3 separate regions of the Homo sapiens genome follow, and all the other regions are reported to be linked to region 2. The links are microRNA targets in miRTarBase. Many come from high-throughput screens and were not tested one by one. Region 2 holds a microRNA gene; each other region holds the end of a gene's coding sequence.

Region 1 (3,323 bases), not on the chromosome of region 2:
GCTGGACAAGCACTTCTTGCTGTGCGAGGCCTGTGGGAAGTGTAAATGCAAGGAGTGTGCATCCCCCCGGACGTTGCCTTCCTGCTGGGTCTGCAACCAGGAGTGCCTGTGCTCAGCCCAGACTCTGGTCAACTATGGCACGTGCATGTGTTTGGTGCAGGGCATCTTCTACCACTGCACGAATGAGGACGATGAGGGCTCCTGCGCTGACCACCCCTGCTCCTGCTCCCGCTCCAACTGCTGCGCCCGCTGGTCCTTCATGGGTGCTCTCTCCGTGGTGCTGCCCTGCCTGCTCTGCTACCTGCCTGCCACCGGCTGCGTGAAGCTGGCCCAGCGTGGCTACGACCGTCTGCGCCGCCCTGGTTGCCGCTGCAAGCACACGAACAGCGTCATCTGCAAAGCAGCCAGCGGGGATGCCAAGACCAGCAGGCCCGACAAGCCTTTCTGACAGTTTGTGTCGAAGCCCCAGTGCTCTGCCTGGAAACCTGGTTCTCTTCTGACATCTAAGAAGACTGCAGCAAGGTCAGAGGTTTTAGCCTCCTGAGGCTGACCTTGCTAGTCTGCCCACTCCCTACCCCCAGCTTCGGAAAATACAGAGACCACCACCACGTACCCTGTATTCCCCAAGGTGATGAAGAAGCACTTTGGGGCTTTTTTTCAGGGTCCTGAAACTTTGTGTCAAACAGACAATGCAGGGGCAGGGTGTGGTTTGGGGGGAAATTTTTCTTTTTCAGAAGACAGAACACAGATGTGGACACATATCCGGAAACTGCAGCTGCTTGAATGCCTTCCCAGCCCCTCCTTCTCCCTCCCTCCCTCCGCCCCCCCCCCCTTCCTCTTTTCCATTGTCTTTGGCTCTCACAGGAGCTAGCTGCCTGGGAGGAATTGTTAACTGAGTACCAGGGTACCTTTAAAGAAGACCCTTGGAGTCTTCTATACCTTCTTCTCCTTCCCCATCTCACTCCACCCCACTTTGTCCCTGATGTCTTGGGGAAGGTGTAGAACACCCTAGCAGTTCCTATTGTATATACTTGGGAGCCACTGAGAACAGAGGACGGCCAGTGAGTCCAAGCCTCGTTCCTCCTTCTGCCTCCCCGGAGCCACAGGATGGATTTAGGAGCCACTGCTCAGTGCACTTCTCCCTTCCAACTGCATCAACTAACTCTCGGGGGTGTTCTGCTCACCACACCGTCCTTCGGTTCTTACTGAGTCACAGACTCGCCTGCCCACTACGTGTCCTGGGTTCTCTCTACTCAGATCCCTTCCAGAAACTTTATATGGGTAGAGGAAGCCAGGGCGGCAAATGCGAGACCAAATATCATTTTGCCAATGAGTCTGAGGCTGTGGTCTCTGGATCCAGTCATTATGTTTTTATAGAATAATTAAACCGGATGCTAACGGTGTTTTAAAAAATAATAATAAAACAACTTGTTTCCTTTTGGCCACCCCCAGGAAGGGCTGATTTCAAAATCTGGGGGCGAGCAACCTCAAGGAACACAATTTCCCTCCCTATCAACAAGAGGATTTTAACAGCAAAGAAGAGAGGCAGCACCTCCCATTGGCAGAATGACCGCTGAGCCAGGCTGGGTTTGGGTTTCTTCTCTTCTGATTCTGCTGCTCACTGTCATAGCCTTTTGTGTATAGTGATGTGTCTGTATCTTTAATGTAAATAGAGAGATGATGAAAAAAGAGTCTATTTTAGTGTTAGGAAGCCCCAGCAGGGGAGTCGGAAGAGCTTGGAAGAGCTGGGGAGAGGGTAGGGGAAAGGTTTTTCCAGGGGCCACTGGGTTTGAGCCCTGCTTCTGTGCACAGCCACACCACCCTCTCCCGACAGCCCTCAAAGACGTAGCAACTCTTTCTCTCAAGGTGCTAAAGGACTCAGAAGGTGCAGCACGTCCAGTGGGTAGGTACTTGTTGCATGCAAAAGCTGTAGTGTATCTGGTCCTTCCTCCCCAGCTTTTGTGTGGGGTTCTTGCTTTGTGTGGTATTTTGTTTTCCCCTCTAATGAGAGGGCATGGCCTGAGTCAGAAGAGCTACCCCAGGTGAAACTGGAAGTGCATGAGGCAGAGCGTCCGTAGCATTTCCAGTTTGTTCTGTATAGGAACAGAGGTGCCTCCGGGAAGGAGGCAGCGAGGTAGGTAGCTATGATAGGCACCTAATGCTTCTCAAGGACTTATTTTTTCCTTCTTGAAGACTAGTAGTAACATCTTATGATTTAGAGTAAGTTGATTGTAACCATAGGTATTTATTGATTGGAGGAAGGGAGGGTCATATTATTTTCGGCTTTATTTATGTAACATTTGCTAGCTTGTAAAAGGCGAATGTGAAATATTGCATCTGCATTTTCCAAGGCTGATTCGTGTAGCTACCCTTGCCACAGTTGTGACGGATGTATGGATGTTCTTGAACATTTCAGAAGGAGTGGTAGAAAAAAACACACATTCAGCCAACCACTTATATGAATTGAATGTATCAGAAGTGTACTGAAGGGACTGGAGATGGTTTTCCTCAGATGAGGGGGCCCCAAAATTGATAGTGCACATCTGCACGCTTTCTGCGAGGCCTCAGAACTTCCCAGGGCCCCTCCCTCAAATTGTCTCCATGGGAAACTTGACCCAGTGGCAAGTTGCACTTTGGTGATCTTGGTGGTCTACACACCCGTTCTGTGGAGAGTCGATTTACATAAGCTGTGTATACACACACACACACACACACACACACCCCTACCCCACACTGACTGTCTACCGACAAAGACCCTATTTCCTGGCAAACGGCCTCCTGAACCCTGACTTTTTGTGTACATACTTGTAAACACGGATTTTTCTGGGTTTTGGTTTGCTTTTTCCTTTTTTCCCCCTGCCCCTGTTCTAGCTTGTTCTTCTTGGTTTGCTTTCAACCTGCTTGATGGATGTCTGCAGAGTGCTCTCTAAGAGTCCACCTCAGTGCCTCGTGTGCTCAGTGGTCATGGGAAAGGAGCGAAGGAACCATCCTTGGTTCTCCCAGCTTGGTTGTGTAGCAATCCCTCAGCATTGTTTTTCTCAGCTTCTTGGCAAAAATTAAAACAACAACAACAACAACAACAACAACAACAAACAGAAGGATAAACTGGCTTGCCTGTGGACCCTCCCCGGCTCTGGGGCCAGTCGAGAGCCACTGAGGGACCCAGCACTCAGAGACACAACACACATGTGTAGCTGCTTCTGGCTGAGTGTGTTTCCTGTCACCAATGGCCTGTTTGGCTGGACGATGCCTCGGCTTGACCTTTTTTGAAAAGTGCTGGTTAGTTCCCGCCCCTGGTAAACCTGGGGTAGGTGGGGGTTCTG
Region 2 (3,000 bases):
TGGGCGCTGTCTGGGCAAGCAAGCAGCGTGCTGGGCACTCTCCTCCCAAAAGAGGGGGTCAGGCTCCTCTTCCCTTCCCTCCCACCAGAGAGCTTTGCTGAGAGCGGCCTGCCTTGGTTCCTTAGCCCAAAGGTGGAGGGTGCTGGGCGCCAGTCCTGTGCTCACTAAACCATGGAGCTTCCCTCACAGCCAACTGGCCGCTGCTTCCCAGCCCCAGCATGGGCTCTCCTGGGCTGGCTGTCTCCTCCCTCCCTGGGCAGGGGTGCTGTCCTCTTGCCCACGCCCTCCTGCCTTCCTCCCTCAGGTCCGCAGGGGTGGAGCAGCTCATGTACATCAAGGAGGACTTGATCATCCCTCACGTGAGTCCCTTCAGCCCCAGTACCCGCAGTGGGTGCAGCACCCTGGGCTTTGGCTCAGGCTGGTGGGGGCAGTGTGCGCAGGCGGGGGGTGTGGGGAGGGGCCGAGATGGACCATCAAGACGCCGCTTTCCTGCCCTTGGCTCCCAGCATCACAGCTTCTACGACTTCATCGTCACCAAGGCACGGGGGAAGAGTGGTGAGTGCCGCCGACCCAGCCGCCCCCATAGCACCTTGCCGCCGATGTTGTCACTGGGGCAGCAGCGGGACATTGGGCTGTCACTTCTCCCCTGCAGGACCACTCTTCAACTTTGATGTTCATGACGATGTGCGGTTGCTCAGTGACGCCACTGTGGAGAAGGATGAGGTACAGCGTAGGGGGCCGTGTGAGGGGGAACGGGTGTCCCTGGGCTATGGAGGAGAAGCCAAGGGAAGGGGAGGTCAGCAGGCGGCCCTGTGCCCTCTTCCTCCCTTAGTCCCATGCAGGCAAGGTGGTGCTGAGGAGCTGGTACGAGAAGAACAAGCACATCTTTCCCGCCAGCCGCTGGGAACCCTACGACCCTGAAAAGAAGTGGGACAAGTACACGGTGAGGAGGGGCTGGCAGGGACCCCTCCAAGTTGGGGACGGCAGCCAGCCCCTGCTCACCCCTCGCCTTCCTTGTCTCCTCTGCCCACCTTGTCCTCACACTAGATCCGCTGAGCATCCAGGAGGCTGCGCGGCCCCGGCTCCTCAGCTCCCTCAGTGTGCCCCGTGGTGTCACCGGGACTCCAGGCACCCGCTCCCCTGCGACCATGCCAGGCACGCTGGGAGGAGGACGGCAGCTGCTCGTGTCCTGCCCCTGCCACATCAGTGACTGCTTTATTCTTTTCCAATAAAGAAGTGCACGTGTCAGAGCTGGAGCGCCTGCATTGTGAGAAACCATTTGTGTTCGGACCAAATTCATTTGTCATTTTGACCATTTAAAACTGTACAATTTGGTGGCATTTAGCACATTTGCCATGTTGTGTAGTCATCACCCTGGTCTGCTTCCAGGACATTCTCATCCCTCCAAAGGCCCTGTGGCCATAGGCAGGCTCCTCCCCTCACATCCCCCCACCAGGCTCTCATGTGCTTTCTGTCTCCATGGATTGACCTGTTCTGGACGTGTCATACGTGCCTGGGGAGTCTGTCACCGTGGCAGCCCCACCATCCCTGAGGTGTCTTTGTGGCACTGTGCTTCTTGACCGTGGGCACCTGTCCTTGGGCGGTGGTGGCTCTGGTGGGTGGGAAGGGGGTTCCTCCCCAGGCCTCTCTCCCAGGCCCTTGGGCTCCTGTTGAGTTTCCCGTAGGGGACGTGGCCGTCCTGTGGCCACGAAAACCCATCCTGCCTTCCTTGCTGTGGGCCGTCCCAGCACAGTCGTTCTGCTGTGGTGCCCTGTGCTCGACACTTGCCTGCCCTGCCCTAGCTAGCCCTGCTCAGACAGCCCTTGGGGCAGGATCCAGATCGGGGGTAGGTCCAGGACCCCTACTCTGCCACCTCAGCAGCTGATTCCCCAAGTTCCACTTGGCTAAGCTGAGGCAGGCAGGCCTGGCTCCAGGAGGCTGAGGAAGGCCAGCTGACAGCTCCCTGTTTCCTCCCCTGGCCTGAAGCCAAGAAGAAAGGGCAGGGGATAGCCCCTCACTGGCCAGGATCACCCCAGCCCTGGGTCTGGCCTCCCCTTCCTGGCAAATGTGGAGATCTGATGGTGCCCGATAGTGCAGAGGCCCAGTGTCTCATTCAGCGTGGCCGGGAAGTAGCCACCTGGCGTCACTAGGAATAGAGATGAGAGTAGACTAATGTTTTCTTTCTTTTCTTTTCCTTCCCTCCTTCCTTCCTTCTTCCTTCCTTCCTTCCTTCTTTCTTCCCTCCCCTCCCCTCCCCTCTCCTTCCTTTCCTCTTTCTTTTTTTTTTTTGAGACTGGGTCTTGCTCTGTCTCCCAGGCTGGAGTGCAGTGGTGCAATCTCAGCTCGCTGCAGCCCCCACCTCCTGGGCTCAAGTGATCCTCCCGCCTCAGCCTCCTGAGTAGCTGGGACTACAGGTGTGCACCACAATGCCCAGCTATTTTTATTTTTATGTACATGAAAATTGGAACAGAATTAAAAAAAAATTTTTTTTGTAGAGATGGGATATTGCTCTGTTGCCCAGGCTGGTCTCGAACTGCTGGGCTCAAGTGATCCTGCCACCTCAGCCTCCCAAATTGCTGGGATTGCAGGTGTGAGCCACTGTGTTTGGCTGAGTAGGCTATTTGATGCTCTGGAACCAGATAAGGTCACCAAGGATCAGTGTGTGCCAGGGGTGGTCACCCACTTTGCTCACCCGGGCCTCGTTCCTGGGGGCTGTGTGTGTAGAAAACAGAGAGGGAAACAAACAAAACAAAATGTAGAACAAGATGAGCTGGCCTTTGTGGCGTGGAGACATTTAAGCTGACATCCAAATGACAAGAAGTCAGCCATTCCGATGCGGGAGGGAGTGTTCCAGGCAGAGGGAACACCAAGTCTGGGTCAAAAGTGAGCTGGAGGCCGGGTGCAGTGGCTCATGCCTGTAATCCCAGCACTTTGGGAGGCTGAGGCGGGTGGATCACTTGAGGTCGGGAGTTCGAGACCAGCCTGACCAACATGGTGAAA
Region 3 (3,348 bases), not on the chromosome of region 2:
ATGGCACTGCAGGATCGATCATGAGAACCTGGTCGACGGGCTTAGGACAGTGTCTGAGGTTCAAGGCAAGAATATTCCTAACACAGGACTCACTTCAGACTCTCTAAGCCTGGTGATTTTGAATATTTGATGCCTCTACGTCCTATGTTCAGATTTTGTGATCTCTAAGCAGCCCTCTGAGCATTACTTGGCTTCACAGGTAAAGTTAACTCTAATTCTTGCATTTTGGTGACAATTTTATTTTATTAGGTATATTTAAGATTTACAACATGATGTTATGGGATACATATAGATAATAAAATGGCTGCTATAGTGAAGCAGATTAACATTATCATCTCAGTTTTTTTGTGATAATAGCAGCTAAAATCTACTTATTTAACAAAAATCCCTAATACAATTGTATTAACTTTAGCCCTATCTCTAGACTTGTTCATTTTATCTGCTATTTTGTATCCTTGGCCTGCATCTCCCCATTTCCTCTTCCCCAATCTGTGGTAAGCACTTTCTCTGTGTACTTGAGCTCTTTCTTAAAAAATTAAATATTCCATATGTGAGATCATGCAGTATTTTTCCTTGGGTCTGGCTTATTTCACTTAGCATAATGTTCTCCAGGTCCATCTATGTTGTGGCAAATGGCAAGAACTCCCTCTTTTCCAAGGATGAATACTATTCCACGGCATGCATATGCCGTATTTTCTTTATTTGTCCATTGATGGGCATTTAGGTTGTTTCCACATCTTGGCTATTGAGAATAACACTGCCACAAACATGTGAGTGCAGATATCTTTATGAGGTGATGATTTCATCTTTTTTTTTTTTGAGATGGAGTCTTGCTCTGTAACCCAGGCTGGAGTGCAGTGACGCAATTTTGGCTCACTGCAACCTCCACCTCCCGAGTTCAAGTGATTCTTCTGCCTCAGCCTCCCAAGTAGCTGGGATTACAGGTGCCCGTCACCATGCCCGCCTACTTTTTGTATTTTTAGTAGAGACGGGGTTTCACCATGTTGGTCAAGCTGGTCTTGAACTCCTGACCTCAGGTGATTCACCCACTCCAAAGTGCTGGGATTACAGGTGTGAGTCACTGCGCCCAGCTGGTGATTTCATCTTCTTTGGGTACATACTTACTCAGAAGAGGGTCAGATAACAGTTCTATTTTTAATTTCTTTAGGAGCCTCCATACCGTTTTCCATAACGGCTGCCCCAGTCTACACGCCCACAAACAGTGTACTAGGGTTCTCTTTTCTCCACAATCTCATCAACATTTATCTCATGTCTTGTTAATAGCCATTCTTATAGATGTGAGGTGATAGCTCACAGTGGTTTTAATTTACATTATTCTTATGATTAATGATGCTGAACACCTTTTCATATCTATACCTACTGGCCATTTCTTATGTCTTCTTTGGAGAAATGTCTGCTCAGGTCCTTTGCCCATTTTTAATTATTAGTTTTTCCACAATTGAGTTGTAAGAGTCTCTTATTGAAAGTCTGCTGGTATTACAGGTTTATAGCTCAGTTTTTTGAGCTTTATTATAAATCTGACTTTCAGAAATAGATCTGCTTCCCTTAAAAAAATCTAGTTCCTGGATGAGGCTGATAGACCTTTGATCAAAGTCCATTCTCCTTGGTAATGAATGCTCCTTGTTTCTTAGGACAGCCAACTGGTATATCCTTAGACAAACTCCTAATTCTCTATGCAAAGCCATTATCATGGTTTTCTATAATAAATAAGATAAACAAGCAGGAACTAATAGAAATTTAATGTTGTTTTAAGATAATACTTAAATATTAAGAAAGCTAAAATTTAAAATGTGTTGACTAGGTTTTTCTACACAATTATATTTACATAATGACTAAGGTAAAACCTTTCCACAAATAGTTGCCCAGGAGGAAGAAAAAGCAACCTACAACAGTCTCTGGGGCTTGCACTGCCTTCTCAGGCCAGCTATACCCTAGCTGAGCAAAGAACTGAAGAAGCAAGTGTCCACTCCCCACCCCTCTCCCCTGCCCCCCTTTTGTTACTTGAAGTGTTTCTGAGTAACAAATGCAAAACTAGGTTTGAATATAAAAGCTAGACGACCATGCCAATTCAGGATTGTGTTTCATCTGAGGAGACCTGGCATAGAAAAAACAAGAATTCTCTCTCATTTACAAGGATACTGTGATGAAAGTCAAAGATCACACATAAATTTATGATCTCTGAGCAAAGGCACAGCTAGCATAAACTCATCTGTAAAATGAGGGGTTTTGACTTGGCCATCTGTCAAGGTCCATTCAGCCTGTCAAGCTAGCGTCAAAGTTCAGATCTTCCACGATGAAAGAACTTGCCCTCTGCTAAGGTGGATGCAGAAAGAAAAGTCCCATTATATTGTGGGACCAACCTTCTGATATAAAAAACTATGTTGGGATTAAAGTAGATCAATAAAGTATAAATATTTATCATAGTTGTAGGGTAAATATTCAAAAGTTTGAAATTTATGTATACTGTAAAACTGGCAAACTGGTCTTAAACACATAAAGCAAAGATTTTCCCATGGGGAGAGAAAATTTGAGAGTAAGCCCAGTGAATTACTTAAGTCCTGAGCGTCCATAATCTGCATCCATGATGCCTCTCTTTTTTTCCAGGTCACTTGGACAAGAATATTTCTTGTCTTATGTTGGTTCTGAAACACCTTTTTTAAAAAAAGCATCAAGAAATTATGATTCAGGGGTTTGAAACCCCAATGTTACAGGCAGCGCCTCATTTCTACGGAATATAAAACATTTTGTTTCTTCCACTTCTAACAGTTCATCAAGAGAAGCCACTACTAAATCGTGTTCCTGCAGCATTTCTGGGTAGCGGGACACTGCTCGCTCAATCCTCGACGAACGCCGTACAGGAGTGATAAATTTCATGTCTTGCACTTCCGGCATCCCATTTATTCTGAGAGACAGCAAGAGATGCATTAAAAACCTTATCATTTAAAAAAATTATCTTTATTATTTTTTGTTTCTTATTCAATAATAAAACAGGGAAGACATTTTAACATAGGGTGATACAAGAGATATGTCTAGAGCAGCTTTCATCTTCAGATGGCTTTTTCTAGGAGTTCGAGACCAGCCTGGGCAACATAGCAACACACTATCTTTACCAAAAAATATAAAAATTAGCTGGGCATGGTGGCACACACCTGTAATCCCAGCTACTCAGGAGGGTGAAGTGGGAGGACTGCTTGAGCCCAGAAGGTCAAGGCTGCAGTGAGCTATGATTATGCCATTGTACTCCAGTCTGGGCAACATGGCAAGACCCCAGTCTCAAAAAAAAGGCTTTTCCCTGATTTCCAGAATGTACTGGGTGGTGTCCATCTG

The links. The annotated mature microRNA hsa-miR-6858-5p reads GUGAGGAGGGGCUGGCAGGGAC and lies in region 2 at 944-965, shown strand. An mRNA with a match to its seed (bases 2 to 7 or 8) in the 3' UTR can be bound and repressed. Matches are read on the target gene's strand: a 7mer-m8 pairs with bases 2 to 8, a 7mer-A1 pairs with bases 2 to 7 and ends in A, and an 8mer does both.
Region 1: miRTarBase lists SPRY4 as a target of hsa-miR-6858-5p. The part of its 3' UTR that is shown has no 7-base or 8-base seed match.
Region 3: the mRNA of CKAP2L is a reported target of hsa-miR-6858-5p. Seed matches in the 3' UTR shown: 7mer-m8 at 2,108-2,114.

The regions. Positions count from the first base shown.
Region 1 is chr5:142,311,334-142,314,656 of GRCh38, reverse strand. SPRY4 (sprouty RTK signaling antagonist 4) reads left to right here. Exons shown (of 2, transcript NM_001127496.3): 2 at 1-3,323. The coding sequence ends at 448. Among named protein-coding and RNA genes, the nearest start is that of SPRY4-IT1, 5.3 kb to the left of the region's middle. RefSeq lists an enhancer at 3,238-3,323.
Region 2 is chrX:154,449,377-154,452,376 of GRCh38, forward strand. MIR6858 (microRNA 6858) reads left to right here and starts at 944; the gene lies at 944-1,010. FAM50A (family with sequence similarity 50 member A) reads left to right here. Exons shown (of 13, transcript NM_004699.4): 9 at 305-359; 10 at 507-555; 11 at 653-723; 12 at 833-943; 13 at 1,048-1,278. The coding sequence ends at 1,056.
Region 3 is chr2:112,736,126-112,739,473 of GRCh38, forward strand. It overlaps CKAP2L (cytoskeleton associated protein 2 like), which reads right to left. Exons shown (of 9, transcript NM_152515.5): 9 at 224-2,923. The coding sequence ends at 2,698. NT5DC4 (5'-nucleotidase domain containing 4) reads left to right here. Exons shown (of 17, transcript NM_001393655.1): 17 at 2,788-2,970. The coding sequence ends at 2,811. Among named protein-coding and RNA genes, the nearest start is that of NT5DC4, 17 kb to the left of the region's middle.